3 linked regions of the Homo sapiens genome follow. The main gene of each other region encodes a partner of the protein of the gene in region 2 in a complex. Each region holds a gene or a part of one and is shown on either strand. Other genes may lie near its edges. The genes, in order: CD4, LCK and CD8A.

What was found.
Region 1: the proteins of LCK (region 2) and CD4 are in contact, whole or in part, in an NMR structure (PDB 1Q68), measured with the Homo sapiens proteins. Residues at the interface, in NP_001036236.1 of Homo sapiens: Glu15, Ile17, Val19, Cys20, Asn22, Cys23, Tyr25, Pro26, Ile27, Val28; in NP_000607.1 of Homo sapiens: Ala429, Arg431, Ile435, Leu438, Leu439, Lys443, Thr444, Cys445, Gln446, Cys447.
Region 3: the proteins of LCK (region 2) and CD8A are in contact, whole or in part, in an NMR structure (PDB 1Q69), measured with the Homo sapiens proteins. Residues at the interface, in NP_001036236.1 of Homo sapiens: Cys20, Asn22, Cys23, Tyr25, Pro26, Ile27, Val28; in NP_001139345.1 of Homo sapiens: Arg212, Arg213, Val214, Cys215, Lys216, Cys217.

Annotation. Positions count from the first base shown.
Region 1 is NC_000012.12:6,783,141-6,793,946, reverse strand, and holds the start of CD4 (T-cell surface glycoprotein CD4 isoform 1 precursor), read right to left. Parts: upstream 4,420-10,806; 5' UTR 4,285-4,419; intron 1-4,284. UniProt on the Homo sapiens protein: Integral membrane glycoprotein that plays an essential role in the immune response and serves multiple functions in responses against both external and internal offenses.
Region 2 is NC_000001.11:32,252,805-32,263,112, reverse strand, and holds part of LCK (tyrosine-protein kinase Lck), read right to left. Parts: intron 1-10,308. UniProt on the Homo sapiens protein: Non-receptor tyrosine-protein kinase that plays an essential role in the selection and maturation of developing T-cells in the thymus and in the function of mature T-cells. Plays a key role in T-cell antigen receptor (TCR)-linked signal transduction pathways.
Region 3 is NC_000002.12:86,787,914-86,798,600, forward strand, and holds the start of CD8A (T-cell surface glycoprotein CD8 alpha chain isoform 1 precursor), read right to left. Parts: upstream 3,001-10,687; 5' UTR 2,913-3,000; coding exon 2,864-2,912; intron 2,769-2,863; coding exon 2,415-2,768; intron 1,838-2,414; coding exon 1,727-1,837; intron 1,521-1,726; coding exon 1,410-1,520; intron 648-1,409; coding exon 617-647; intron 1-616. UniProt on the Homo sapiens protein: Integral membrane glycoprotein that plays an essential role in the immune response and serves multiple functions in responses against both external and internal offenses. In T-cells, functions primarily as a coreceptor for MHC class I molecule:peptide complex.

The sequences.
Region 1 (10,806 bases), on a different chromosome or scaffold from region 2:
TGTGTGGTGGCTCATACCTATAATCCAGCACCTTGGGAGGCCGAGGCAGGCAGATCACTTGAGGCCAGGAGTTTGAGACCAGCCTGGCCAACATCATGAAACCCCCGTGTCTACTAAAAATACAAAAAAATTAGCTGGGGATGGTGGCGGGCGCCTGTAATCTCAGCTACTTGGGATTACTTGTAGTGCCACTGCACTACAGCCTGGGCGACAGAGTGAGATTTTGTCTCAAAAAAAAAAAAGATAGATAGATAGATAGATAGATAGATAGATAGATAGATAGATAGATAGATAGATGATAGATAGATACAATTTTGTTTAAACCGGGGAAGTAGGAAGAAAAGAGGTCAGGAAGGAGGTTTCTGAAAAAGGAGGAAGGGAGACTAGCCACCAGTGATGGTGAAGTGTTTACAGGTTAGCATGCAGATGGGAGGCATCTAGGGGAAGGCTGCAGTGAGAAGAGTAGAATAGGAGTAGCCTCATACCAAAGAGTGGTTCCCACTGTCCCCCATCCCAGACTGACTGGGTCCTTGGTGAGCAGGGGATGAAAGAGGGGAAGTCTCCATAAACGATATCCCTTCTCTGGGGTCCAAATTCAGCTTACCCTGATAAGATGCCTGGGGAAGACTAGAGGCATTCTTGACCCTTCCCCATATGGTGGCTGTTTTGACTCCCCCAGCTCCATGGTCCTGAGGTATGTGCAGACAGCCACCTCCCTGCCTCCAGCTCCCTGTTCTGCCTCATCTCACCCCAAGGCTCTGCTAAGTGGAGGAGGCTGTGGGTTTCCAGCATGCTTGCTTTGGTGCTTTGGGCTTCCGCTGCCACCCCAGAGATCTGGCCTTTGATTCCCATACTCAGCGTCCCCAGAGGTGTCTTACCCTAGTACGGTAGCATCCTGTATACCAGCACTCCGAGAGAGGCTGGGAGGGCTCTCTGGTCCCTCAAGCCCTGGCACGTCTCTCTCTCTCTTTCTGTCTCTCTCTCTCCCTCCTTGCTTCTCAGCTCACATCTGTGCATTTCTGTATCTATGCTTCCCAGCCCCCAGCTTATGCCCCCAGCCTGCAGCTCCCTGTGTCTGTGTCTGTCTTCCTCTTTGCCTCATATACCAGGCGGCCGTGCTGGCTCTCCCGGGCTCCCCTGGAATGCCCCTTGCCTCTTCTCCTTTTTCAGCTTCCCCTCTCAGGCTGCCACTAAGCTCTAGCTCCTTCCGGTCTGTACACAGTCCTCCTGGCCTTTGGCAGCAATGCAGACCCTGGACAAGCTTTGATCTGTGGGGAGCCTGCCGAGCACGCCTGCAGCCCAGGGTGGATGTGAGGGAGCCGGCTGCAGGGTGGGAGGGACACATGGACAAAGGGAAATGGACAGAGTTCCCCAGAATGCACAGAGCCTCAAGGGAGGAGGGGAGGGAAAGATGTGGGAGAGAGAGACCTGGAGCAGCTTGTTAAAGCAACAGCTATGCACACACAATCCACAATCACACACAAAGCGCAGGGTAGTACAAAAAAAGAGGAAAAGAAGAAATTCTGAGAAGCAAGACAGATGCACAGAGCATAGATCCAAAGTGAGGCAAAGAGAGACTGAGAAAGAGAAGAGACCAAAATGGCAACACACACCACGCACTTTCTCAGAGCCTTGAGGTTCCTGCCGCCCTCACCCCTGGCCCCCAGGGATGGGATGAGGGGCGAGGCTTGGGAGGGTAAGAGGGCCCAGCTCCACCACAGCGAGAGTCTGTGGTCCCACAGGCACTTTTATCTTCTCCCCATAACCCCCAAGCAGCCCACTCAAGCCCAGCCGCGGGATGTGCCCCACCGCGTTCACCCTCTCTACTGCTGACTAGCTTCCTATAAACTTCCTAGAGACTGTGACCCCTCTAAGGAACTCTTGTGGTTGGTGGCTGCAACCTCCGCCATCCTCTTCTTCGCCTCAGACACCCACATCGGGGGAACCGTGCCCACCCTCCTTCCCTCATCCCCTCAAAGGTACAGAACAGAGCTCAAACTCAGAGCCTTGCAAACCCAGACCCCTGCCCACCTACTTCTGATTCCCCACCTTCATCAAAGTTATTTTGAGACAGGGCCTCACTCTCGCCCAGGCTGGAGTGCAGTGGCACAGTCAGGCCTCACTGCAGCCTCCGTCTCCCAGGCTCAAGCAATCCTCCCACCTCAGCTTCCCAAGTAGCTGGAACCACAGGCACACACTACCATGCCCAGCTAACTTTTGTGGGGTTTGTAGAGATGGGGGTTTCACCATGTTGCCCAGGCTGGTCTCAAACTCCCAGGTTCAAGCCATCCTCCTGCCTCGGCCTCTCAAAGGGCTGGGATTACTGGTGTGGGCCACCACGCCCGGCCCATCACAGGTATTTCATTCAACAAACATTTATTGAGTGTCTAAAATGTGCAAGACTGGCCCAGTATGGTGGCTCACGTCTGTAATGCCAGCACTTTGGGAGGCCAAGGCGGGCGGATCATTTGAGGCCAGGAGTTTGAGGCCAGCCTGTCCAACATAGTGAAACCTGGTCTCTACTAAAAATACAAAAAGTAGCCGGGCGTGGTGTTGGGCTCCTGTAATCCCAGCTACTCAAGAGGCTGAGGCAGGAGAATCGCTTGAACCCAGGAGGTGGAGGCTGCAGTGAGTGGAGATCACGTCATTGCACTCCAGCCTGGGCAAGAGAGCGAGACTCCGTCTCAAAAATAATAATAAAAAATAAAACGTGCAAGACAATTGGTCTAGCCAATTGCCCTCAGCACCACCCCGCCATTACGGCCAGGGTCAGAGCCTAGGGCTGCCCCCAAGCTCTGTCTAGCACCAGTGGTGGGAGGAGTTTTTATCTAGATATAGACCTCTCCTATGTAAGTGCTCCCACATTGAAAGAGGGAAATCATCTCCCGAGTGTCTCTAACGCTGTCCTCAGGGGCTCTTTCATCTGACTTTGAGGGCGGCGGCCATTTTGTATCAGCCTACAGCATCTGATACAGCACAAGGAATTATTGGTCAAAATGTGAAGTAGCAGTGACTTCCCCCATCAGGCCCTGCTCTTAGCCTTGCCCCGATAAAAATGTCCACCACAAGAGCAGGGCATTCAGGAAGCACTATCCCACTCAGAGTGAAATCTTTGAATTATTGAGAACAGGGCCTTTCCGTTTTGAGGGATCAGAACGTACCCCAGGAAACCTCTCTCCCAGAAGAAGCCTATGAGGGGAAAGCAGAGGACACTGGGGATAGCACGGCTTCAAGGCCATGAGGTCTCAGGGGCTGGAAAGGTCTGAGGGCGGAAAGGCTGAGATGGCACAGGGCTTCCCTTCAGGAGGGACAGTGAGTCCTCACTCTCCCTCACACCCTGCCAGGCCCAGGAGGGGCTGCACATCCTTCTGTAACTCTCCCGGCCTCATGAGACCCCTACCACCAATTCTTTTCGAATCCGTTTCTTAAATGACATATTTATCTAAAGATATGTATCTGCAACTTTTAGGGCAATTCATACGCAAAAGCTCAGTTTCAACACTTTCTGAGAATTTTAGCTTTCCTATTTCATGAATCATTTTAAAGCTAACTAGAGTAGAAGTGCCTTTAGACATTGTTCAAAAATCTTAAAAGAGCAAAGAAGCAGACAAAAATTTAAAAATACACACAGAAACACAAAAGGTAGTTAAAAGAGACTATTACATAGATCATGCGACTTATGAAATGCTGCAAGTATGATATTTGGTGTCAATTTTTGGAGATTGTCCCGTTAAGGAAAATTGGTTTTGCAAGAATTTTCTCTAGACTAGATTCCACTTCTTTTGCTCTTTTTCTTGTTTTTATGTTTTTCCTCATCATTTCTTTTTTATAGGTTTCCTCCCACCTTATATTTATTTATTCTTTCTAATTTTTTCCCTCCCCTTCTTCACTCTTTTTCTCCTCTTTTCCCCTCTTCCAGTCTTCTCCCCTCAACTGCCCACGACTAGTTGCCTTCCACGCCTTTCCCAGCCTGGGATAGTCTCCAGTCTTCACTCCCTCTCTGATCTTGCTATTTAGGTCACTACTCCTCTAAGGAGCACCCATTGCTCTGGACACTGAGCTGTGCACGCTGGGGCTGCAGAGAGGAGTCTAGCACAGTCTCTGACCTCTGGAAGCTCACAGTTCCAGTGGGAAATCGCTGCTCATGACCAGTTCCAAGAGAAATGCAAGAGAAGGTGGCCAGAGCTGTGGGCAGACAACTGGGCAGAGCACATTCCTGTGCATCTGCCCCACGTTCCCCTCCCTCTCAGCTCCGGGGAAGGAAGCCGAGTCTGACCACCTTACCTCTGGGCTTGCGTCTTTCTTGCCCGCTGCTTCTCAAACAGGCGTATCTGTGTGAGGACTTGGAGCTCTGCAACCAGGAGCCCAGTGGGGAGGGTGCTTTGTTCCTTCTGCAGAGTCGTGCTTAAATGAAGAGAGACAGGAAGCCCGATGGCAAGGCTCCTCCACACCCTAGGCCTGGGCCGGCCCCAAACGTCACCAGCTGGAGCTGGGTTCCCCACCCCCCAGGCTCTCAGGGAACATGTCAAAGTGAAAATGCCAAAGTCAAGGGAAAAAGTTAAGCAGAATCAGGCTTAAATCAGGAGTCAAACTGTCACTGCCACTGTTAAGCGGCAAGAAAAAGATGGCAAGAAAGATTCCATTAGTGGTAGCGCCATGTCTGACCAGGCTGTGGGGAAAGAAGTGGGAGGCAGTTGGGGGCATATGGGAACAGCAGTGGTAAGCCCACAAACAGCTCCTTGCTCTGGGGCCCTGAGGGCATGTGTCCAGTGGGTGCCCCAGGGGTATCTGTGGAGGCTTTATAGGTGGCCCAGTGTGGAAGAGAGGGCGTGGGCTGAGCAGAGAATATCTGAGACACCAGGAGTGACTGTTAACCAGGCTCTGTTCCTCTAGGCGTCTCTGGCCAGGCCTCAGGTGCTTTCCTCTAGCCCGAATCTACCATGAACTCTCTATGTGAGTATCCGTCTGCCCATTGGACATCTCCACTGGGAAGCTCACCGGACATAGCAAACTCAACACACATCCCCAACTATGCATACCACCTGCATACTACCACCCTCCAAACCTGCTTCTCCAGGCTTCTCACTCAGTGAGGGGCTCACCATCCACCAACTTGCCCAAGCAAAATAAATTGGGTGTAATCTTTGACACCCCCTTCACCCAACTTCTCCCACGTATTTATTTACCAGTTCCTGTGGATGTTACCTTCTAAATGGCTCCAAAATCTACCCAAGTCACTCTGCACTACCACTACTGCCACCATGCCAATCCAAGATGCCAATATCATCCCTTGCTCGGACAACAGCTCCTGCCTCCTCACTGGTCGCCATTCTCCATACCACAGCCCAAGTGATCATTTAAAGATGCACATGTGAGTGTGCGTTTTCCAGTCTGAAAAAAGTGGGGCTGGGAGTGGTGGCTCATGCCTATAATCCCAGCATTTTAGGAGGCCGAGGTGGGGGGATCGCTTGAGCCCAGGAAGTTGAGGCTGCAGTGAACCGTGATTGCACCACTGCACTCTAGCCTGAGTGACAGAGTGAGAACCTGTCTTGAAAAGAAGAAAAGAAAAGAAAAGAAAAGAAAACTCTAGTTCAGCTTGCGACTCCAACAATTAACACAAGTACCCCTATTTGACAGCATTGTACTTCATCTGTAGCATATAGTACTGTGTGCTACTTCTCATTTCATGACACACCGTACTCAAGGGTTGAGATTTAATAAAATTAGTATTTACTGCTTCATTAAAGGCATTCTATATATATATATATATATATTTTTTTTTTTTTTTTTTTTTGAGAGGGAGTCTCACTCTGTTGCCCAGGCTAGAGTGCAGTGGCGTGATCTTGGCTCACTGCAACCTCTGCCTCCCGGGTTCAAGCAATTCTCCTGCCTCAGCCTCCCAAGTAGCTGGGGCTACAGGCATGCGCCACAATGCCCAGCTAATTTTTGTATCTTTAGTAGAGATGGGGTTTCACCATGTTGCCCAGGATGGTCTTGATCTCTCTTTTTTTTTTTTTTTTTTTTGAGACAGAGTCTTGCTTTGTCATCCAGGCTGAAGTGCAGCAGCATGATTTCGGCTTACTACAACCTCCGCCTCCTGGATTCAAGCCATTCTCCTGCCTCAGCCTCCCGAGTAGCTGGGATTACAGGCACCCGCCAACATGCCTGGCTAATTTTTGTATTTTTGTAGAGACAGGGTTTCACTCGTTGGCCAGGCTGGTCTTGAACTCCTGACCTCAGGTGATCCTGATCTGCCCGCTTCGGCCTCCCAAAGTGCTGGGATTACAGGCACGAGCCACTGCGCCCGGCCTCATTAAGGGCATTCTTAAGTAAAAGTGGCATTAATTTTTTTTCTTTTTTTACTGTAAGTACCTGGCAGTGAAGAATGCAATGACTATCATATGGTTTGGCACCACTGCCTTCATTTATGCTAAGGCAGCAGTTTTATCCAGATTGTTTTTGCAACATTATTGCAATGTCAACATAGTGACAAAGGAAAATAACATCCTGTATTTTTTTATGAAAATAGCTTGACCTTGAAGATCCCCTGAAAGGGTCTCAGGGACTCCCAAGGGTCTGCAGGCCACACTTCACTCTGAGAACCACTGATCTAGGTAATTTTTATTCATTCTTCAGATCTCAGCTATCGCTTTAGCTGTCCCCAAAGTCTATTTTCTCCTTCTTGGTAATAGAACCCTCAATTTTTAGCTGAGCTCTTAGCTACCCAGATTTAAAATATACTTCCCAGCCTCCCTCACAGCTGGATGTGTCCAAGTGACTCAATTTTGGTTAATAGATAGAAGTGAAAGTATTAGGTGCAACCTCAGAGTTGCTCCTCAAAGTGGGGAAAATGTATCCTCCTCAGGCCTTCTTCCTTCAGACTAGAAAGCAAACACCCTCCCTATTGTTCACAGCCAGTCTGCTTTTCTCATTTACATTACCTGGCAGGCTCTGGTAGGCATTGATGTTTTGAGCCCTGCTCCATTCATTCATGTACGTAGTTAAGCGTGTACCAGCCCAAGGCACTCTGCTAGGTAGCTGGGGATGTGATGTTGAAGAAGACAGATATGGTCACCACTCCAGCTTATGACATAGACACTAAACAACGAACAACTTCATTACAATTCGACAAGCGCTACAAAGGAAAAAGCACAAGGTGCTGGGAGATCTTATCACAAAAGAACCTTCTTTCAACTGGGAGAATTGTCTATCGGTAAGCACTGGGTTCTGCTACAAGCAAAAGAAAACCCAAAATAATAGAGGCTTCAACAAGATTGAAGTTATTTTTCACATGTAGGAAGTGTGGAGGTGGGTGGTGCAGAAGAGAGGGAGCAGCACGCCGTCCTCCAGGGCCAAGATTGGGGCTGTTTATATTTTGTTGCTCTACCATTCTCCTGCACAGGACTTCCTCCCCAGAGTCTCAGAGGATACTCAGGTTCCTCAGTTGAAATCAGTTTTCCTTGTGATAAGATCTCCCAGTCCCCTGTGCTTCTCCCTTCGTAGCAATTTTCCAGTTGCAATGAAGTTATTTGCTGCTTAGTGTCTAGCTCACAGGCCAGAGCGGTGACCGTGTCTGTCTTAGTTAGCACTATGTTCCCAGCACCCTCACAGATGCCTTGGCCCTGGAAGACCCTTAATGCTTGTTTAATATTTTCCTAATATATTAAATTTTATTGATATTAAATTTATTGCGGTAAAATACACGCAACATAAGATTTTCCATTTTAAGCTTTTTTTTTTTTTTTTTCCAAGACGGAGTCTTACTCTGTCCCCCAGGCTGGAGTGCAGTGGCACAATCTAGGTTCACTGCAACCTCCACCTCCTGGGTTCAAGCGATTCTCCAGCCTCAGCCTCCCGAGTAGCTGGGACTACAGGTGCCCGCCACCACGCCTGGCTAATTTTTGTATTTTTAGTAAAGACGGGGTTTCACCATGTTGGCCAGGCTGGTCTCGAATTCCTGACCTCAAGTGATCTGCTCACCTTGGCCTCCCAAAGTGTTGGGATTACAGGTGTGAGTCACCACACCCGGCCATTTTAGGCATTTTTTAATGTACTGCTCTGTGGGACTGAGTACACTCACATGGTTGTGTAACCATCTAGAAATTTTTCATCTTCCCCAAATGAAACTCTGTACCCATTAAATACTGACTCCTCATTCTAACTCCCTGCAACTCCTGGCTATTGAATAATATTTTTTTTTCTTTTTTCTTTTCTTTTTTTTTTGGAAACAGAGTCTTGCTCTGTCGCCGAGGCTCGAGTGCAGTGGTGTGATCTCGGCTCACTGCAACCTCCGCCTCCCAGGTTCAAGCGAATCTCCTGCCTCAGACTCCCGAGTATCTGGGATTACAGGCGTGCGCCACCAAGCCTGGCTAATTTTTGTATTTTTAGTACAGACAGGGTTTCACCATGTTGGCCAGGCTGGTCTCGAACTCCTGACCTCAAGTGATTCTCCTGCCTCTGCCTCCCAAAGTGCTGGGATTATAGGCGTGAGCCACTGCACCAGGCCAAATAATTTTTGAATGGATAAATAGAGAAGTATGGACAAGAGCAGGAGAGCAGGGCTACAAATGTAAATGCTTACAGGAGCCCCCTAGGTAGTGCAAATGAGAAAGGTACACTGGTGGTGACCAAAAGGGAAGGGTAGGGACTGGGGGAAACCAGAGAGTACTTGCCTCAGCTAGTTAAGGGCAGCCATTCCCTGCATAGCTGTCTGAGTTGACCGTAGAGGCTATACTGGCATGTGAGCCTAGAGTTGCCTGCTCTGCCAAAATTTCTAGAGAAGGTGAAAACCAGACATTTATGTAATACCTCCTGATTTTAATATTGGTAACAAATTTTTTCAACTTGTCGTGACACTGGGTAGAGCAAACAGAGCATTCCAAGGGCTGGCTCTAGCTTTGGGCCCACCGGTTTGCAGATTCCAGACCCGATGGACGGTGTGAGAACTTGCAGCTCTGTGAGTCTGTGGCCTGGAAGTCAACGGTCCTGAGAACCTGGCTCTCTCTCTGGGGTTTCCAAACAGGAAAAGAAAAAAGGAAGAGAGAGGGTGAGTTTATAGTAAACATTTGGCATTGTTGTGTGCTTTATGTGGTTGTATCTTTTATTTAATCCTCATGAGAGTGATAAGACATAGGTATTATTGTCCAGGCCATACAGATGAGGAAACTGAGGCTTGAAGAGTTTTTTGTTTTCTTAGACAAGGTCTCGTTCTGTCACCCAGGCTGCAGTGCAGTGGCACGGTCACAGCTCACTGCAGCCTCAACCTCCAGGGCTCAATCTATCCTCCCGCCTTAGCCTCTCAAGTAGCTGGAACTACAGGCATGTGCCACTGTACCCAGCTAAATTTTTTTTTCCCCTAGAGATGGGGTTTTGCTATGCTTCCCAGGCTGATCTCAAACTCCTAGGTTCAAGCAATCCACCCACCTCAGCCTCCCAAAGTGCTGGGATTACAGGCATGAGTCACACTGTGCCTAGCCGAAGAGTTTCAGTTGTCAAAGGTCTCAGAGCTAGTAACCACAGCTGGTGGAACCGGGATTTGAATTCACCCGCTTGGACCCCAGTTTCTGGGTGGTCCCCCTCATTGCACTGCCTCTCCTCTGCATTAAGAAGGTCCAGGACCAGGCATGGTGGCTCGTGCCTGTAATCCCAGCACTTTGGGAGGCCGAGGCGGGCGGATTGTGATGTCAGGAGATCCAGACCATCCCGGCTAACACGGTGAAACCCCATCTCTACTAAAAATACAAAAACAAAAACAAAAACAAACAAACCAAAAAAAGAAGGTCCAGGCGGGGCGTGGTGCCGAGTGCCTGTAGTCTCAGCTACTCAGGAGGCTGAAGCAAGAGGATGCCTTGAGCCCAGGAGTTCTGGGCTGTAGTGCACTATGCAGATCAGGTGTCTGCACTGAGTTCAGCTTCAGCGTGGTGACCTCCCGGGAGTGGGGAACCACCAGATTGCCTGAGGAGGGGTGAGCCAGCCCAGGCCGGACACACAATGGGTCACAATTTCCATGCTACCCATGCTAATCAGCAGTGGGATCGGGCCTGTAAATAGCCACTGCGCACCAGCCTGGGCAACATAACGAGAACCCACCTCTAAAAAAAAAATAAAAAATAAAAAAAGAAGAAGAAAGGCCAGGATGACAGCTAAGAGAAGTCTTCTCCCTTAGCAGTGGAGGGAGGTATGAGGCCCACTGCCTCACCTGGAGCTTCTGAGGCTCAGCAGTGCCATGGTCCTCACATCTCTAGAGTGGTTTTCCATTTTCCAAGCACTTTCACATTCATTTGTACATGCCAGACCTTTTTGGTAGGTGTTGCTGTTACTATCCTTACTTTACAGAAGAAGAAATGGAAGTCAAGCTGTCTGCCCCCATCACATGTCTGAAAGCATGGAACAGGGGGAGTTCCAGAGGCTATTTTTGCTGCATGTATCCTGCCTCTCTAGGCTGTAGAACGGGAGGAGGCCAAGCCAGGGGAAGGAGTGATGGGGAAGAGAGAGAAGCCGGTGTCAGAGGCTACAGACAGAGTGCTGGAGACTGGATGATCTGAGAGGCCTAGGGCAGCCAGGGTTGCAGGAAAGTTGAAAGCCCCAGGTGCAACTCTGCGGTGGCCTCCTTACCAGAAGTATCTTTGGCAGCACTGACGCCCTCTGCAAAGGGGGCTGGGGGCAGGGTTTGAGGATGGGGAGCAGGGGAGGGGTCTTTGGGGCTGTTCTCTGGGAAGCAAAGTCTAGGAGCATCGATGCCATCTCTACCCCATCCACATTTCCCCTGGCTCCAGGACCACTTTTTGCCACTCTCAGAGGGTGGTT
Region 2 (10,308 bases):
GCCTGTGGCCTTTTTATAATCATCACAAAATGTTCTGTGGACCACGGGCAGCCTTAAGTTTGACTGAGAACATTACATGCCCTAGTCAGAGGCAGCCTCGAATCTATGAAATTCTTACTCGTGACCTTGGATTCCTAAATTGGGAGAAAAGAATGTCCTGTTTCATTCACCCCAGAATCTGCCCTCATTGCTGGTTCTGGGAGCCCTGGGGATTCCTTTCATCTGTTTTTTTTTTTTTTTTTTTCTCCCTTCCTCCACTTCTTTCTTTCAGACAATGAGAAATTTATATTAAGCTTTAATTTTGATTTTCTTTTTACTGACCTCATTTATTAACCTGGTTAGATCATGTTGGCTACTCAGCAATCTTTATCAAACTAAGACCAGAAGGAGTCTGGGCATGGTGACTCACGCCTGTAATCCCAGCACTTTGGGAGGCTGAGGCAGTAGGACTCCTTGAGCCCAGGAGTTCGAGAGCAGCCTGACCAACATGGTGAAACCCCGTCTCTACTAAAAATACAAAAATTAGCCAGGTGTACTAGGCGCATGCTTGTAATCCCAGCTACTCAGGAGGCTGAGGCAGGAGAATCGCTTGAACCCAGGAGACAGAGGTTGCAGTGAGCCGAGATCGCGCCATTGCACTCAAGCCTGGGTGACAGAACTAGACTCCATCAAAAAAAAAAAAAAGAAAAGAAAAAGAGATTCTCCTGCCACAGCCTCCCAAGTAGCTGGGATTATAGGCACGCACCACCACACCCAGCTGATTTTTGTATTTTTAGCAGAGATGGGGTTTCACCATGTTGGCCAGGCTGGTCTCAAAATCCAGTCCTCAAGTGATTCACCTGCCTCGGCTTCCCAAAGTGCTGGGATTACAGGTGTGAGCCACGGCACCCGACCATGCTCAGCTATATAATTAGTGGCCGGCGTCCGGCTACCGGGGGCCGTGGCTCACACCTGTAACCCCAGCACTTTGGGAGGCCGAGGCAGGTGAATCACTTGAGGTCTGGATTTTGAGACCAGCCTGGCCAACATGGTGAAACCCCATCTCTACTAAAAATACAAAGATTATCTGGGTGTGGTGGCACGTGACTGTAGTCCCAGCTACTTGAGCTACTTGGGAGGCTGAGGCAGGAGAATCTCTTTTTTTTTTTTTTTTTTTTTTTCTGACAGAGTCTAGTTCTGTTGCCCAGGCTGGAGTGCAATGGTGTGATCTCGGTTCACTGCAACCTCTGCCTCCCAGGTTCAAGCGATTCTCCTGCCTCAGCCTCCGGAGTAGCTGGGATTGGAGGCATGCGCCTAGTATGCCCGGCTAATTTTTGTATTTTTAGTAGAGACGGGGTTTCACCATGTTGGTCAGGCTGGTCTTAAACTCCTGACCTCATGATCTGCCCACCTCGGCCTCCAAAGTGCTGAGATTACAGGTGTAAGCCACCACACCTGGCCCTTTTTTTTTTTTTTTTTTTGAGACAGAGGACAGAGTCTCACTGTGTCGCCCAGGCTAGGGAGCAGTGGCACGATCTCGGCTCACTGCAACCTCCAACTCCCAGGTTCAAGTGATTATCCTGCCTCAGCCTCCCAAGTAGCTGGGATTACAGTCACGTTCCACCAGGCCCAGCTAATTTTTGTATTTTTAGTAGAGACGGGGTTTCACTATGTTGGCTAGGCTGGTCTTGAACTCCTGACTTCGTGATCCGCCCACCTCGGCCTCCCAAAGTGCTGGGATTACAGGCTTGAGCCACCACCATGCCCGGCCAGCAGGAGAATCTCTTGAACTGGGGAAGCGGAGGTTGCAGTGAGTGGACATCACGCCACTGCACTCCAGCCTGGTCCATGGAGTGAGACTCTGTCTCAAAAAAAAAAAAAAAAAAAAAAAAATTAGCCAAGCATGATGGCGTGATGGCATTTGCCTGTAGTCCTAGCTACCCAGGAGGCTGAAGTGGGAGGATCACTGAGCCCAGGAAGTCAAGGCTGCAGTGAGCCGTGATTATACCACTGCACACCAGTCTGGGCGACAGGGGACCCTGTCTCAAAAAAAGAAAAAATTAATTAAATTAAATTAAAAAAAATTTTTAAGTTAACATTTTTTCTCCTCCAACTATAGACCTATTGATTTATTGAACATTTTGTCCAAAATGTGTGCCAGCTTCGTGGCTGAGTTTCTTGGGCCAATGCTTTACATCAAGAACAGGCAGGTGGTCGGATGCAATGGCTCACGCCAGTAATCTCAACATTTTGGAAGGCCAAAGTGGAAGGATCACTCGAGGCCAGGAGTTCAAGACCAACCTGGGCAACATGGTGAGAACTCATCTCTACAAAAAATACAAAAATTAACCAGGTGTGGTGGTGCACGCCTGTAGTCCTAGCTACTCAGGAGGTTAAGGTAGGAGGATCGCTGAGCCCAGGAGGTTGAGGTTGCAGTGAGCCAATATCATACCACTGTACTCTAGCCTGGGGGAAAGAGCAAGAACCTCTCTCAAACAAAACAAAACAAACAAAGCAACACAAAAAACAGCAGACAAGACTATACTTCCTTTAGGGATCATTTCTTTAGTTCAGTTTCTCTGAACATGTAGAGCACAAAAAGTAAAAAAGAAAAAAGAACAAGCAGACTATTCTACTGCAGACCATTGTTGTACTCTGGACCACCTCATGGCAAAATCTGTCAGAAATCATTTAGAATAGCCAGGGCTGGAGGCTCACGCCTGTAATCCTAGGGCCGAGATGGGAAAATCACTTGAGCTCAGAAGTTCAAGACCAGCCTGGGCAACATAGTGAGACTTTGTCTCTGTAAAAATAAAAATAAAAGGCCAGGCGCAGTGGTTCACACCTGTAACCCCAACACTTTGGGAGGCTGAGGTGGGTGGATCATGAGGTCAAGAGATCGAGACCATTCTGGCCAACATGGCGAAACCTCATCTCTACTAAAAATACAAAAAATTAGCTGAACGTGGTGGTGCACACCTGTAGTCCCAGCTACTCGGAAGGCTGAGGCAGGAGAATTGCTTAAACCCGGGACTGCACTCCAGCGTGGCGACAGAGCAAGACTCTGTCTCAAAAATAAAATAAAATAAAATAAAAATAAAAATAAAATTAAAAAAAAATGAATCATTTAAAACATTTTCTTCGCCTTTGCCCCGACCCAGACTTGATTAATGACAAAGCTGCCCATGTTCAATAAAGAGCCTTAGCTATTCATGCCCACATAGAACCCTCATGACAATATCAAGCAATATCAAGAATCAGGGCTAGCAGGCATGGCAAATAATTTCTTTCTTTATTTTATTTTATTTTGAGACAGGGTCTTGCCCTCTTGCTCTCTTGCTCTCTTGTGCCACTGGAGTGCAGTGGCAAAATCACAGCTCACTGAAGCCTCGACCTCCCGGGCTCAAGCAATCCTCCCACCTCAGCCTCCTGAGTAACTGGGACAACAGGCATGTGCCACCACGCCTGGCTATTATTATTATCATTATTATTATTATTATTATTTTTATTTTTTTAGATGAAGTCTCACTCTATCGCCCAGGCTGGAGTGCAGTGGTGCAATCTCGGCTCACTGCAACCTCTGCCTCCCAGGTTCAAGCAATTATCCTACCTCAGCCTCCCGAGGAGCTGGGACTACAGGCGTGTGCCACCACACCTGGCTAATGTTTGTATTTTTAGTAGAGATGGGGTTTCACCATGTTGGCCAGGGTAGTCTAGAACTCTTGGCCTCAAGTGATCTGCCTGCATTGGCCTCCCAAAGTGTGGGATTACAGGTGTGGCATGAGCCACCGCACCCAGCCTCCAGCTATTTTTTTTTTCTTTTTCTTTTTCTTTTTTTTTTTTTACCTGAGAAGCTGTGAATGAGAGGGCCCGGGTAATTTTTGTATTTTTTTAATTTTTGTAGAGACAGGGTTTTGCCATGTTGCTCAGGCTAGTCTCAAACTCCTGAGCTTAAGCAATCCACTGCCTCAGCCCCTTAAAGTGCTGGGATTACAGGCATGGGCTACCGTGCCCCGTCAGTAATTAATTTCTAGTGGGTAAATCAGGGATGTGTCCTGGGCTACCTCCTTTTTCATATTTGTTTAAATACATAATACTTTTTTTTTTTTTGAGATGGTATCTCACTCTGTGGCCCAGACTGGAGTGCAGTGACACAATCATGGCTCACTGCAGCCTCGACCTCCCATAGCTCAGGTGATCCTCCTACCTCAGCCTCCTGAGTAGCTGGCACTATGGGTGGGCAACACCACGCCTGGATAATTTTTGTATTTTTAGTAGGGACAGGGTCTCACCACGTCACACAGGCTGGGTTTTTTTTTTTTTTTTTTTTGAGACGGAGTCTCGCACTGTTGCCCAGGCTGGAGTGCAGTGACGTGATCTCAGCTCACTGCAACCTCCACCTCCCAGGTTCAAGCGATTCTCCTGCCTCAGCCTCCCGAGTAGCTGGGATTACAGGCACCCGCCACCATGCCTAGCTAATTTTTTGTATTTTTAGTAGAGACGTGTTTTTTAGTAGAAACTAATTTTAGTTTCACTATGTTGGTCAGGCTGGTCTCGAACTTCTGATGTTGTGATCCACCTGCCTCCGCCTCCCAAAGTGCTGGGATTACAGGTGTGAGCCACTGCGCCCAGCCTGGTTTTTTTTTTTTTTTTTAAAGAGATGGAGTCTCACATCTCACTCTGTCACCCAGGCTGGAGTAGTACAGCACATGATTGTAGCTCACTGCAACCTGAAACTTCTGGCCTCAAGTAATCCTCCCACCTCAGCCTCCCGAATAGCTGGGATTACAGGCAGGAGCCACTGCACCTGGCTTTAATTCCGCTCTCTCTCTTTTTTTTTTTTTTCCTTTAGAGATGGGATCTCACTCTGTTGCCCAGGCTGGAGTGCGGTGGCATGATCATGGCTCACTGCAGCCTCAACCACCTGGGCTCAAGTGATCCTCCCACCTCAGCCTCCTGAGTAGCTGGGACCACAGGTACACACCACCAAGCCCAGTTAATTTTTTTATTTTTTGTAGAGACGGGGTCTGCCTATGTTCCCCAGGCTGGTCTTGAGCTCCTGGGCTCAAGCAGTCCCCTTGCTTTGGCCTCCCAAAATGCTGTGATTATAGGTGCAAGCCACCACACCTGGCTTAATACCTTTTTTGAATGAACTCTGTAGCCTCTCGACACAGAGAGAACAAAAAAAAAAGCATTATTTTGGATGCAAACAAAATGGATTTATTTTCACAAATTGGGAGTGTCTTGAACATAGAACTGATTCTGCTAGTCAAGTATCGCTATAAATAAGGGATATAGAGCAATTATTCTAATTGGTATTTTAGTAGAAGTCCCCCAACCAGTAACGTGAATATACCTGATAATCCCTTTTACTGAGTCCGCTCCCTTGGGTACTTTGGTGTGCTTTTTGTATCATGGACAGTTTTATTAGGATGGAGCCTTACTTACAGCTTGGCAATCCACACTGCTTTATAAACGTTTCTGGGAGTCTGGCAGCTCTGGAAGCTCAGTTCACCATGTCCATGCCATGGCAACCCAAATTCAATCCAGGTTCTCCCAATCACTTGCTGGCAGAAGGGCACCAGGCGTGGTGGTTCACACCTATAATCCCAGCACTTTGGGAGGCTAAGGTGGGCAGACAGATACGTGAGCCCAGGAGTTTGAGACCAGCCTGGGCAACATGGCAAAACCCCGTCGGTACAAAAAAAATACAAAAATTAGCCGGACTTTGTGTCCCATGCTTGTGGTCCCAGCTACTTGGGAGGCTGAGGTGAGAGGATCACCTGAGATTGGGGAGGTCAAGGCTACAGTTAGCCAAGATTGGGCCACTACGCTCCAGCCTAGGCGACAGAGCAAGACCTTGTCTCAAAAAAACAAAAAAAACAAAAAAAAAAAAAACAAGACTTACTGGCAGAAGGTTGTTGGGCAGCTTACTAAACCTCTGCACTTCCCTCAGTTCCTTCATCAGCAAAATGATGACAAAAATAAGACTTGCATCTAAGGCTGGCTGTGGTGAGCATTATACGTGATATATAGATGATCTCATATAATAAAATGCTTAACATAGTGCTTGCTACATAGACACTGGCCTTAAACATCTTTCAGGCTAAAATGATTGATCATTTTCATTTTCCTTCATGATTTTTGGCACTTCCACGGGCTACCTTTTCACGTTTGATATATGTACCTAAAATGGAAACTTTACTACCATAAATGGAAAACCAGAATCATGAGACATAAATAGAAGTGAAACAACAGCGCACACTAAAATAAACACATAAATTAACATTCGTAAATGGTCATCCATTATCCCCTAAAATCACTTACACACCTGAGTGGTGTACAGGTCATATTTTAGGAAATGCCACACTGCAAGAGAGAACTTTGGGCTTAGGCTGCTGCTTGTGGATTAAAGGAGCTGGCCTATTGACAAAAATGTAATGGGTGAGGTAGGACGATTGCTTGAGACCATACATAGTGTGAGTGCAGCTTGGGCAAAATAGTGAGATCTTATCTCCACACACTTTTTTTTTTTAAGACAGAGTTTTGCTCTTGTTGCCCAGGCTGGAGTGCAATGGCACGATCTCGGTTCACTGCAACCTCCACTTCCCGAGTTCAAGCAATTCTCCTGTCTCAGCCTCCCAAGTAACTGGGATTACAGGCGCCTGCCACCACGCCTGGCTAATTTGTTGTATTTTTAGTAGAGACAGGGTTTCACCATGTTGGCCAGGCTGGTTTCAAACTCCTGACCTCAGATGATGCACCCACCTCACCCTCCCAAAGTGTTGGGAGTTTAGTAGAAACCCCATTTCTACTAAAAATACAAAAGTTAGCCGGGCTTGGTGGCATGTGCCTATAGTCCCAGCTACTTGGGAAGCTGAGGCAGGAGAATTGCTTGAACCCGGAGACAGAGGTTGCAGTGAGCTGAGATAGTGCCACTGCACTCCAGCCTGGGTGACAGAGCAAGACTCCATCTATAAATAACTAAATAAATAAATAAATAAATTGTATTGTTATTATTATGTTTTAATAGAGACGGGGTGTTGCTATGTTGCCCAGGCTAGTCTTGAATGCCTAGTCTCAAGAGATCTTCCTGCCTCAGCCTCCCAAAGTATTGGGATTATAGGCATGAGCCACTGTGCCTGGCCAAGAATTTTTTTATAATTAGCTGGGCATGGTGGTACACATCTGTAGTCCTAGGCTACTCAGGAAGCTGAGGTGGGAGAACCACTCAAGCCCAGGTGTGTGAAGTTACAGTGAGCTATGATCACACCATGTGCCCCAGCCGGGGCAACAGACTGAGACACTGTCTCAAAAAAAAAAAAAAAAAAAATAAATTTAATGGGTACCTCCTATGTGCCAGATTCTGACCTAGAGCTGAGGATGCAGAAGTAAGCAGACAGAGAGCGTCCCATGCATTTGGCCCTGCCCTCTGTGACAGAGGTGGGTGCCCCTCTGGTGGGTCACTTCATTTTCACAGGAGGCTATAAGGCTTGTAGTTAGCTCACTGATCAATAATATCTGTGACTGCCGACAACATGGCCGCACATGACAGCAACACTTGCCAGGAAGTAACATTTCAAAATCACCACCGTTAACCATTTACCAAGCTAACGTTTAGTGAAACAGTTAAAAGGATGAGGTATTTTGTATTGACATGTATTGACACGGAAAGACATCCCGCATACACCATGGCAAGCAAGTTGCAGAACAGAATGCAGAGTATATGCCTATTTGCATTGACATATGTATACAGGGGATTCTTTTAAATAAGCTCTGTGCTAAGCCTTTATTTGCATTATTTCATGTAATTCTCATAATAATCCTATGAAGTGCTATTATTATCCCCATTTTACAGATGCAAAGACTGAGGCCCAAACCAGGTAAAATGATTTGTCTGAGGCCTCATAACAAACAAATGAGCAGTGGAGTTGTGAAGTGAGTCCCGGTCTGCCAGCCTGCAGAGACTAGACTTAACCTCCATGTTTTTCAGCAGCCATACATGGGAAAATCTGGAAGGACACACACCAAATTTTTCACGATGGGCATATCCCAGAAGTGGGATTGGAGGAGGCTGCATTTCTTGTATTTCTTTATATGCCTCTTACTGTTTGAGTTTTAAATTTTATTTTTTTTTTAAATAATTAAATAGAGATGGGGTCTGCCTATGTTGCCCAGGCAGGTCTCAAACTCCTGGGCCCATGTGATCCTCCCATCACGGCCCCCCAAAGTGCTAGGATTACAGGTGCGAGCCACTGTGCCTGGCCTGTTTGAGTGTTTTTAAAACAGCAATGTGCTAATTTTGTAATTAGAAACAAAAACAGCCGGGCGAGGTGGCTCATGCCTGTAATCCCAGCACTTTGGGAGGCTGAGGCAGGCGGATCACCTGAGATCGGGAGTTCAAGATCAGCCTGACCAACATGGAGAAACCCCATCTCTACTAAAAACACAAAATTAGCCGGGCGTGGTGGTCCATGCCTGTAATCCCAGCTACTCGGGAGGCTGAGGCAGCAGAATCACTTGAACCAGGGAGACGGAGGTTGCAGTGAGCCAAGCTCGCACCACTGCACTCCATCCTGGGCAACAAGAGTAAAACTCTGTCTCAAAAAAACAAAAAACAAACAAACCAAAAAAACCCCACAAAACTTAGCCAGACATGGTGGCACACGCCTGTAATCCCAGTTACTGGGGAGGCTAAGGCAGGAGAATCACTGGAACCTGGGAGGTGGAGGTTTACAGACATGCACCACCATGCCTGGCTAATTTTTTGTATTTTTAGTGGAGATGGGGATTCACCATGATGGCCAGGCTGGTTTCGAACTCCTGACCTCAGGTGATCCACCTGCTTTGGCCTCCCAAAGTGCTGGGATTACAGGCGTGAGCCACTGCACTCTGCCGTGTTTATTTTTTAGAGACAGAATCTAGCTGTGTCACCCAGGCCAGAGTGCAGTGGAGCGATCACAGCTCACTGCAGCCTCAAACCCCTAGCTCCAGATACTTTAAAATCAACACTGAGGTTGATTGTGAGAGGCCCCATTACTGGATGGTACCTTGGTCCCACCTGCTCCTCACCACCTACCCCACCCCACCCCACTGAGAATTACTTTCACTGAATTGAGCTTGGCCTTGAAGCCATCAGCTCGTGGGTGTGTGCATGGAGTTATAGGATGTAGTCTGTGTTTTATGTGTAGCCCCTGCCCTGCCTCTGAACACATCTGTACACGTAGATTTTCCCATGATATGTATGGTGTTTTGGCTTGTGTGTGTGTGTGTGTGTGTGTGTCTGTGTGTGGCTGCGTGAGAGACCCTCTTCTAAAGTAGATCCCATGGCCCCGCTCAGAGTCCAGCCTGCCTGAGTTCTCACACTCCTCACACTGTATACAGGAAACAGGCTGATTTGCAAAGCCACACCACAAGTGTGAGGGAATGGGTGGTTCACTGGCCCACCAAGGTGCTGAGTGGGCATAATTTGGGTGTGGACAGCCCTCCCTTTGGTGCATCATTTGCAGGGGGAGGGAGTGCCCCACCTCCCTTAAACACCTACTATGTGCTGGCCAGGTGCGGTGGCTCATGCCTGTAATCCCAGCACTTTGGGGGGCCGAGGTGGGCGGATCACGAGGTCAGGAGATCGAAACCATCCTGGCCAATATAGTGAAACTCCATCTCTACTAAAAATGCAAAAATTAGCTGGGCATGGTGGCGCGCCTGTTAATCCTAGCACTTGGGAGGCTGAGGCAGGAGAATCACTTGAACCCGGGAGGCATTTTTGTTTGAGATGGGGTTTCGCTCTGTTGCCTAGGCTGGAGTGCAATGACTCGATCTCTGCTCATTACAACCTGTGCATCCCGGGTTCAAGCAATTCTGCCTCAGCCCCCTGAGTAGCTAGGATTACAGGCACCTGCCACCACGCTCGGCTAATTTTGCATTTTTAACGAAGACAGGGTTTCACCATGTCGGCCAGCCTGGTCTCAAGCTCCTGGCCTCAAATGATCTGCCCGCCTCAGCCTCCCAAAGTGCTGGGATTACAGGTGTGAGCCACCGTGCCCAGCTTGATTATTGCCTCTTTACAGATAAGTAAACTGAAGCTCAGAGAGAGAGATGAAGCCACTTGCTCAAGGAAATGGTCCAGCGGAATTGTGACTGGGTCGGCCTGTCTCTGAAATGCACATTCTCTGCTCCACACCACACCTGTGGGCTCTCTGGCCTTTGGTCTTGCTCTGAGGTCTCTGCCCTCGTGGTACCCAAGGAACAGAATCCAGGGATAGTGACCTTGGCTTCATGTCCTACGCACTCTTGAAAATGGGTCTTTCTCCTTCTCAGAACTGTCTT
Region 3 (10,687 bases), on a different chromosome or scaffold from region 2:
TGTGTGTGTGTGTGATCATGGGCTGAAACTGGATGAGGCAGTCACTTGAGCTGCCAGATAGCCAATTGTCCCTGCATCTCGTTCCCCTTTTTTCTACTCCAGTCCTTGGCAGCAAACCAAGGTCCTACATGACACAGAGAAGTTAGCAACCAAAGCCATTATTATTTTGGTTCAGCTGATAAAAGATTGGCTCTCCCTCAAAAAACTAGACCAGCCAAGTAGGAAAAAAAATTGTTTTCTTAAGAAAACAACAAAACCCAGATGGAATAATCAGAATAAAGAGGAGGTCAGGTCCTACGAGGAGCTAGGATAAATTGGGGGAATCCCTCAGGTTTTTTTTTTTTTTTTTTGGAAGTGCCAGGTCAAATAAGATGGAGATTTACTGGAGTCACACTGCTGTTGGCACCCGCCTAACCCGGGCCTCCTTTTTCTCAAAGACACAGGCCAGATGCCAGCCTTGGCCTCTCTTTGCTCAGGAACTGGCTGACTCCCTGCCCCAGGATTTCACGGCCATGACCTCTCTCTGGGAAAAGTTCCCACTATTTGCTGCTGGGGAAACCAGGACCCCACCCCAGGGCTGGCCAAGGTGAGCAGGCTGAGTTCAAAAGAGACTCACCGGGGACATTTGCAAACACGTCTTCGGTTCCCTGGATAAGGAAAAAGAAGGGAAAAAGTGAGTGCCCCTATCCATCAATAGTCCCCAAAGACAGTGTATTTTTTGTTGTTGCTGTTGTTGTTGCTGCTGTTTTTTGGTTTTACAAAAAATCATTTCAGAACGATCATGGGCTGAAATTGGATGAGGCAAATAGGGAATTGCCTCTACGAATTCTCCTTCCTTTCCCCTATTTCTTTGAGGATTATAACTCTTGAGAGCCGGGTAAGGGCTTCTTATCCATCCTTCGTCTCAAGCATCAATTAAAAAAAATTGCAACTACAGACGCGGGCGAAAGCGGGGAGCCTGCAGACCTGATCCGGCACCTCTCTTGCATGGGACCCAAAGCAGGGTGGGCGGTTCGCCGAAGAGGGCCAAGGACGAACCTCAAACTGATGGTGGTTTTGACTAACCCTCCTGGGCACTTGACTCGGCCACAGCGGCCCCCTCCCGGCGGGCGTTTGTCATGTGTCCAGACATGTGCGCGCGCGCTGCGGGCTTCGTCGACGGAACACACCCGCTGCAGCGGCTCTGGGAACGCGGCTTTGTCTCCCAAAACCTCTCCGAGAGCGCAAGGAGCGGGAAGGGCTTTCTCGCATTCTATCTCCCAGAAAGAAGTGCCTGTACCTGCGGGGCAGCTCGGGAGTCCCAGAAAACTCAACCCCAAGCTCCCCCCTCGCAAGGTCCGCCTGGAGCTAGCAGAGCCAAGGGCAGGAGCGGGGCCGACTCCTTCCCGCCGCGATTCCTCGGGACTTACTGTGGTTGCAGTAAAGGGTGATAACCAGTGACAGGAGAAGGACCCCACAAGTCCCGGCCAAGGGCGCCCAGATGTAGATATCACAGGCGAAGTCCAGCCCCCTCGTGTGCACTGACGACACCAAAGACGCCGACATTTAGGAGAGGGCCCGGGACCTCCCAACCGCCCCACCGTCCCGGGAACGTCTCTCCGCCTCAGATCTCGGTTTCCCACCACTTGGACAGCCCTTGACTCTACCTACAGTATCAGGGCTGTCCCTGGCATGGGCTCTCCCCGCGGTGCGTGCCGCCCCCGCCCCGGGCCCCCGCACGCCTCACCTGCGCCCCCCGCCGCTGGCCGGCACGCCTCTGGGCGCAGGGACAGGGGCTGCGACGCGATGGTGGGCGCCGGTGTTGGTGGTCGCGGCGCTGGCGTCGTGGTGGGCTTCGCTGCAAGAGCAACAGAGCGTGGTTGGGGGCCAGGCTGGGGTTATGGAGGCGCCCCAGCCCCGGCCTCGCGCACCTTTCCCCACGGGGACGCCTCCCCCCGGTTTTCCTGGGAGAAGGGATAGCAGAGGAGACAGGATGGGGACCCCGGGATGCGCGCGGACCCCTGTGCTCGGGCCTCGGCTCAGCCCAGCGCACCCGGCGCCCAGAGCCGGAGCGCAGGAGCCAGCTCCCCTGCACCTGGCCTCTCTCCCGGGCTGAACCAGCAACCCTGGAGCGCGGGTTGATTGCTGTCCGCATTTTACCCACGAGCAAACGGAGGCGCAGATAATTTAAGTCATTTGCCCAGAATCACACAAGAATCCGAACTCGAGTCCAGATCGGCCGGACGTAAAAAGCCATCCCCAGTCCCTACTCAGCCTCGCGTTAGCCTCAGTTTGCTGTGTCTGTGAAATGGGAACAGTATCTAAGTCGCTTCCAGGTGCGCTAAGAGGCTTGAAAGCAGGGCCCAGGTGTGGAAAACAGGTTGAGGTGAACCCCAAGCCCCACGCGGAGAGGTGCCGCAACCCGGCGCGCGGACCTGGCAGGAAGACCGGCACGAAGTGGCTGAAGTACATGATGGAGTTGCTCAGGGCCGAGCAGAAATAGTAGCCCTCGTTCTCTCGGCGGAAGTCGCTCAGGGTGAGGACGAAGGTGTCCCCCAACCTCTTGCCCGAGAACCGCTGGGTGTCCAGCCCCTCGGCCGCCTTGGGCTTGTTTTGGGAGAGGTATAGGAGGAAGGTGGGACTGGCGGCGGCGCCGCGCGGCTGGAAGAGCCACGAGCAGCCCGACGTCGGGTTGGACAGCAGCACCTGGCACTTCAGCTCCACTGTCTCGCCCAGGTTCCAGGTCCGATCCAGCGGCGACACCCGGAACTGGCTCGGCCTGGCGGCGTCTGCAGGCGGCAAGCAGCGAGGCTGAGCCCGCAGTCCCGCGCCCCCCGCCCCCCGCCCGCCCCATCCCCTGCCTTCCCGGGCGTCTCAAACTCACGGAGCAGCAAGGCCAGCGGCAGGAGCAAGGCGGTCACTGGTAAGGCCATGACGCGCTCCCCAGGACGCTGCTTGGCTCGAAGCTCGGGCGCGAGGGGAGGCGCGCGGGAGCCGGTGGGGCGCCGAGGGGGGAAAGTTGCGCCCTTCGGCCGGCCCGGAGCCTGATTTCGCATTTGGAGGATGTGATGTCACCCGAAGCCCCCGCCGAGGAGAGTCACCCTCCTTTTCGCGGTTGTCGCCTTCCAGCCCGGCGAGGAGGCTGGGGCCCGTGAATAGGGCCGTCGAGGCAGCCTGGCCAGGCAACTGGGGGCAGCTGAAAACTGCGGGTTTGGGGATGAGGAAAAGGGCTTGGAAATAGTCCTTGGAAATGGTTGTCTTGTGAGAGTGACAGAGTGGGTGAAGGGAGACCAAAGATTTCAAGAAGTGAGGGCGAGAGTAGGCAGCAAAGGAGGGGAGTGTCCCTTCCTTTGCCTTCACTAAAGGCGTCTCTTGTACTGTCACCTTGGGACTTTTTATTGGCAAAATGGGCACTGAGGGCTGAAAAGGAAGAGGAACTAGCGACCTGCCCGCTTCTGAGGAACTCGCTAGAGCAGCCCCAGTTTTCACCGAGGAAGGACCCTCTCCCTTCCCCCAGGAGATTTCCATGAGAGCGGCAGCAGCCGAAGCTTTGGGTGTCGGTGTCAGTGCGCTGCTGACCTCATTCTTCCGGCCTTTCATCCAGCGGCTAAACTCACCACACAGCCTCATCTCTTCTTGGAGCCATTGCAACAGCCTTCAATTCACACCAGTCTCTCTCCTGATCAGTCCTCCAGCCACGTTGTTATAAAAATTATTATTCTCACAAAGGGGATCTGACAGCGTCACTGCTGCAGCCTCCCATGGCCTGCATTGCTGGATGGAAATTCAACCCCCAGCTTGGTTGACCAGCCCTTGGGTGCTGGCTCCTCCCAGCCTCCGCACAGCCCCCTGCCCTGCCTTTCCCATACACCTGCAGCTGCAGCTTCACAGGCTTGAAGTCATTCAACCCCTGCGCTCTGTGCTTTCACGCCCTTGCACTTGCGGTCCCTCGGCCTGGAATGCTGGTCTGTTTAAGCCCTGGAGGCAGCTCCTGTGCTGTCTCATTTGGACCTCATTTCTTTCACCCCCAGCTCTGGGTGCTCTGCAGGGAGGTGTGGGTGATGTGGGTGAATGCTTGGGTAGAGGCGGTTTTCTCTTTTCTGTCCCTAACACATGTGTGTCCCCTTCCTTTTTGTTTCTTTAAAAAATAAAATAAAATAAAAAAGACTGGAGTCTCGCTGTTTTGCTCAGGCTGGCCTTGGGACTCCTGAGCTCCAGTGATCCTCCCACCCCAGCCCCCTGAGTAGCTGGGACTACAGGCTCATCTTTCCTTTTTGACTGTTGCTGTCCTGAAACCTTCCAGCTCCAGTGGCATGCCCTCTTCCCATTTCTTCAGGGTTTCTGAGTCTTTCCACTTTGAATCCCATAGTGGCTGCACCTCACATTGCTACTGCTTGATCCTAGAGACAAGACACCTGGCATTCTGTGTTCCATGTGTCTGCCCCACCCATTAGTTCTGCTGGGCGAGGACCATGCCGAGACTTCATGATGTGTCCTCCATCCCCAGAAACACAGCATGGGCTGAGCTGTGCTTGTTGAACTGCATTCTCCTTGTCCTTGTGAAGTACAAACTTAAGTGTTGGATGGGTTCTTTGTCGTTGTTGCTATTTTTTTTTTTGAGATGGGGTCTGGCTGTGTTGCCCAGGCTGGAGTGCAGTGTGGCACCACCTCGGCTCACTGCAGCCTCTACCTCCCAGGCTCAAGTGATCCTTCCACCTCAGCCTCCCAAGTAGCTGGGACCACAGGAGCACACCACCATGCCCAGCTAATTTTTTGTATTTTTGGTAGAGATGGGGTTTCACCATGTTGCCCAGGCTGGTCTCCAATGCCCGAGGTCAGGCGCTTTGCCCCGCCTTGGCCTCCAAAGTGTTGAGATTACAGGTGTGAGCCACCATATCAGGGCCTGGATGGGCTTTTTTTTTTTTTTTTAATTATTTTGATTTCAGTACCTCCTTCCAGCTCCCTCAAAGCATCCAAGATGCTTATTCTAGCATGGAACATGTAACATTTTATATTCAGAAATTTTTAAAAATGTCTTTTAAGTGACAACAGTGCAATATATTCTTGTACGAAAACAAACACAAAGTTCCCTGTCTCAACTCTCCTCACTGTCACCTGCTCCCCACAGAAAACCACTGTTACAGTTGAATGTGTCCCTTAGATATTATCTGTACATAAACAGATGTTTATACATCATCTTAGACACATGGGATTGTATGAGATAAATATTTTTTTGCAACCTATCTTGTTTCACAGTAGAAGGAGAGCGTTCAGCAGATGAAGATCCACCCCATTCTTATAAATGGGTGCATTATATATGGGTGTTCCATAATTTAATTCTGCTGTTAGTGGACATTTAGGCGATTTCTCATTATTGCAACACTAGCAAGGCTGTGGTAGATATAATGTATCTGTATCACTGAGGGCTTGCACCAGTACCTGCAGCTTTTTCAAATGGGAGATGAGGGAGTTGGGGAAGAAAACACCTTTACAATGATGGTTATAACTGGCCTATCGATGTATGCATGTGTGTGTGTGTGTGCATGGTATGAGGGTCCCTCGCTGTGTAGACACAGTGCTGTCCCTCAACTCACATGAATGAGGGAGACAAGGAAGCAATCAAGTCCAGACAGGCCACCAACACATCAATTCTTGCTGTAGATGGTAGTTTGCCATTTTGCTCAGCACCACCAGCACTGTATCAGGAGTGTCAAATGGCCCTGCTGGCCAAAGGCTACAATCAACAGGGTGGTAAGGAAGATGGCTAGACACGAAACTGCACTTGCCCAGTGGTGGAAGCACTGAGGGGGCCAGAGTCAACCTCCACCTATTTGGATCTTGAGAATCAGGCCCCTGAGTGTGATGATGGCCAGATTTGGGGGTGTACTGCTTTAAAATAGACTAGTTCCATCTTAGTCTCACGGAAATCAGCTTGGGGGCCTTCTAGCCCTGCAGCTCAGAAAAGTGTCAGCCAGTGGGGTGGCAGCCCCTTTGTACAGAGCACCATGGGGGTTGGGGTGGGGAGGATAAGGCAACATGTCAAACCCATCAAGGAGGCTTTGTGACCCCAGTGATATTTTTTGCAGAACGTGGTGGATTTTCGATGTGACCACAATGACATCCGCCTTGCAGTGGCAGAACAGATGCAATTGCACAAGTTCTGGAGAAACTTTCTGTAGACCAGGTGTGCAGAGGGCTGGGTTGGGCCTGTCCATCACTGCCAGGTAAGTTCCCAAACCCCACACTGTAGCACTGACTTGGGATGGCATGAAGAAATGTGAATGACTGCACTCCTTTAAGCAAGCCCCTTATTTAAAAAAATATCCAGAAGTAGATAGAGTAAGATAGTAACCAGTTTCTATGCTGATTTAAACTGGTCCATGGAAATGGAAAACTTTAATGTAGATTAAAGACATATTCAAAATGCAAAACCGGGCAGAGCAGTGGTAGGAAATCCATCAGGGTTCTGTGCCACTGCTCCTAAGACATGAACTGCAGGGACAACTTGGAATCATGGCTGGGAAATTGCCTGCTGTGTCCCCATCGCCAATTCAGGTCTATGGAGATGTTACTGTTCTTGGAAGGAGTTAGCTTGTCCAGGGCTAGAAACTCTAGAGTTATCAGGGCTTGTTTTATCTTAATTGGAAATACCAATCAATTTGGCCTCACTTCTGTCACCTTTCTTTTCCTCCACCCCGAGTTCCCCAAGTTCATCTAGCTGCTGTCCTTCTTTCCTGGACTTTTGCAATGGCCTCTTAACTGGCCAACCCCATTTCTGCTCTGGTCCCTTCTAGAGAAAATCTCATCATGCCAACCCCCTGCTTCAACCTGAAAGGACTTCCTGGTGTCCCTAGTAGAATGTCGGGGATCCCTAATGTTGCCTGTGAGGCCCTGCACACTTGGTTTCATAGTCTCTGTCCTCTTGTCTGTCACCTTCTTCACTCCTCCTAGGTTCCGCATCTCTCATTTCTCAAGCGGACCCTAGTCCTTTCCACTTCAGAGCCATTAAACATGCTATTCCCTCAGCCAAGAATGTTCTCACCTCTGCTCTCTGCTTACCAAACTCCTCTCCCTTAAGACCCAGCTCAAGCATCTCCTTCCTGTGGGGTTTAGCTCCTTCCCCCTCCCACTCCCAGACAGTACAGACCACATCCTTCTCTTCTCTGTGTCACCCGGACCTTGGGTATCTGCAGACTGGAGCACAATGGTTTGTTTGCCTGTCCAGCTTGACAACCAAACCCTTGGTCCCTTGAGGAAGGAGCCTTGTCCCTCTCATGTTTACACCAGGGTGCCAAACAGAGGGCTTGGCACACACTTGAGTGGCACACACTCAAGAAATTCTTGCTCAGTAAAAGCTAAAGGAAGGTAGAAGTAGGGTACAGCAGACCAGAGGAGGCTTAGATAGTTCATTCCAAGTAAGAGTGGTCAGGAAAGGCTTCACATATAGTTGGGTTTGAAGATAAAGGAAGAATTAGGAGAGAGGTTGTTTAGAATGAGGCATTTGATATGTCTGATCAAGATCAGCTGATACCATGCTTTAACATATAGCAATGGTATAGTTAAAAACAAAAGAAGAGGAGGAAGGGGAGAAGGCAGATGTACTCAAAAGCAAGATAAACGTCTTCAAGGATGTAGTTGCAGGACAATGGCTGGAATCAGGGGCTGGCTTGCTGGGATCTGTTCTTAGCAAACCATTCTTGGGCCTGGGTCTTGAGGGTCTGTTCTTAGTGTAGAGGCACCAAGAGTTTGACTCCTTCAGCTAACAGAGTTTCACAGTGCTTTGCCTATAGAGGAAGGCTGGAGCCAGGCTCTCTGCTTGAAACAGGGATTTGGATCTGATTTTCTCTTGATTGAAAGAGAGCCCACAGCCACCCATGTAAGGCCTAGTTCTGACTGTGGGCCCTGGAAAGTCAGAGGCTACTTTAAAAAACTCAGGAAAAGAGAGAGTAAAGAGAGGAAGAGATTTTCAAAAATTTCTATTCAAGATAACCCTGCACACACACTCGAAATTCAAAGTATACATAAAAAAGACTCAACAAGTGGAATGTGAATTCACTTCCAAAAAGAGGCAAATTATTGAACAATTTGAAAAATGTTTAAAACAAAGAGAACAACAAATGTAGAAAATGCAGAAATTAAAGAAGAACAGTTGAAGATGATAAATACTGAGCATACTGGAAATGAACACTCTACATATTAAACAAGGATATACTCTAGGTTGGACATAGTTGAAGGGATAATTAATGAATTGGAAGCTAGCATTGAGAAATTCATAGAGAATGCAACACAGGGAGATGAAGACAGAAGCAGTTTGAAAAAGCTGTTGAGATGTATATTAGCATGGTGAAGTGTTTAATAGGATTTCAGAAAGGGGAGAACAAAGGGAATGTGGAGAAGAAATATGGGAAGAAAGCATGGCTGAAAATTTTTCACAATTAAAGACAAACATTCTCAGATCAAAAATACTCTTAGTGCCAAGTATAAAAACATATACATCTTTGCACATATCAAGGTGAATTATAAACATCAAGAGTAAAGAGAAGAGGGCATCCCAGGAAGCTAGGATGTTTGAAATATAATTGGGAGAATCCTTGTTGCAGTTTGGATTGGGCAGAGAGGGTAAGAAGCTGAACTGTAATGGGGAAAAATATACACATTTTGGTTACACCTTGCATTGACTCTCTGTCATCCCCTCCCTTGGTGCTGACACATGCTTACTGTAAAACTGATCCAATGATCCCATAGAGTTGATGTTTGTGGTTTCTTTGAATAAACATATAAATTGATCCTTGCCTTCTTAAAACCTGAGAAAGTTACATTTGTCTTATCTGAGTTCCTTTCTAGGGAAACCAACTATCAGGCCTCCCAGATGGTAGCAATGAGCTGAAACTCACCAGATCACTTATTATGAACAATAAGACGTCAGACTCTTCACCTGGTATGATGGCCTAACTAACCTCCTGTTTCCTGTTGTCCAACTCCTTTTCCTTACTCCTCCCAACTTCCTGTTTTCCCACACATGATTACATGTCTTCCCTGCTATATAAACCCCTTAATTTTAGTCAGGTCAGAGGGATGGATTTGAGACTGATCTCCTATCTCCTTGGCTGCAGCACCTGACTAAATTCTTCTTCCTTGGCAATACTTGTTGTCTCAGTGATTGGCTTTCTGTGAGGTGAGCAGAAGGACCTAGATGGATCCCCCGGTGTTTCGGTAACAAAATTGTTTTGGATCTTTAATCTCAGTAACACTGAAACAGAAGCGTTCTGAATGCAACTGGAGAGCCAGGATTTGAGTTCAGAAGAGGGGTCAGGGCTGGGGATGTAGCCTTGGGAAGGAGGTGATAAGTTGTGAGAGTGGGTGTCATTGCAAAGGGAGGTGGTGTGGAAAGAACATACAGAAGAGTATATGGAACCTTCAGGGAAGGCTCGTATTGAAGAGCAGGAAATAAAACATTGGCAAGGAATCCAGGTAGTGCAGGAAATTCAGAATGGGGCTTGAGAAGGTGGAAGAACTTCACAGGGGAGGTTTGGGCTATAAGAGAAGCACAGAGAGGACATCAAAGCCTGTGGCAGGTAGAGATTGTAAGCTCATGTCTGCCCCTGACCCACATGAGGATGTCCCACATGTTTGCCATTGGTGGATGATAAGATGAGGAGGACTCACAGGAGAAAGGCCAACAAGGGAGGGTAGGGGCAGCATGGGGACTTGTGGAGGGCAATGTCAGATGAAGTGATGTTGACTTCTGAACTTCATTCATTATTCACTCATTTAAATATTTCTGCTATTCACTTTTTTAAAAAAAAGTTTTGAAAACATTTTAACATAGAACAATATGTCAAATAATATAAAATGCCCACTCTTTATAAGTGTTAGCATTTTGTCGCATTTCCTTCACATGAACATTACAGATAAAACTGTACCCTCCCAAGTACCACCCCACCCGCCTTCTCATGAAAAGCTAAATTTGGAGTTTTGTTCATTAATTATGACAGAAAGATGGTAAGTTTTTTAATTTTTAATCTGTTAACCTTTCCTATGGAGCTGAGAGAGAAGGATGCCGAATGTCCAATGAGTGTGGATTTGTCTATTTCTCCTTTTAATTCAGTTCATATTTTGTCTCCTATATTTTGAAGCTTTGTTATTAGGTGCATACACATTTAGAATTGTGCCTTCTGGATGAATTCACTCTTTTATCATTATGAAATGTTCGTCTTTACCTCTGCCTCTGGTAATACTTTGTTGTGAAGTCTACCTTTTATTCATAAGGAACAGAGCTTTCTTTCTTTTTTTTTTTTTTGAGATGGAGTTTCCCTCTTGTTGCTCAGGTTGGAGTGCAATGGCACGATGTTGGCTCACCGCAACCTCCACCTCCCAGGTTCAAGCTATTCTCCTGCCTCAGCCTCCCGAGTAGCTGGGATTACAGGCATGCACCACCACGTCCGGCTAATTTTGTATTTTTAGTAGAGACAGGGTTTCTCCATGTTGGTCAGGCTGGTCTCGAACTCCCAACCTCAGGTGATCCACCTGCCTCAGCCTCCCAAAGTGCTGGGATTACAGGCATGAGCCACTGTGCCCGGCCAGAAACACAACTTTCTTATGCTTCCCGTTTGCATAATGTATCTTTTCCTTTTTCTTTTTTTTTTTTGAGGCAGAGTCTAGCTCTGTTGCCCAGGCTGCAGTGCAGTGGTGCGATCTCATCTCACTG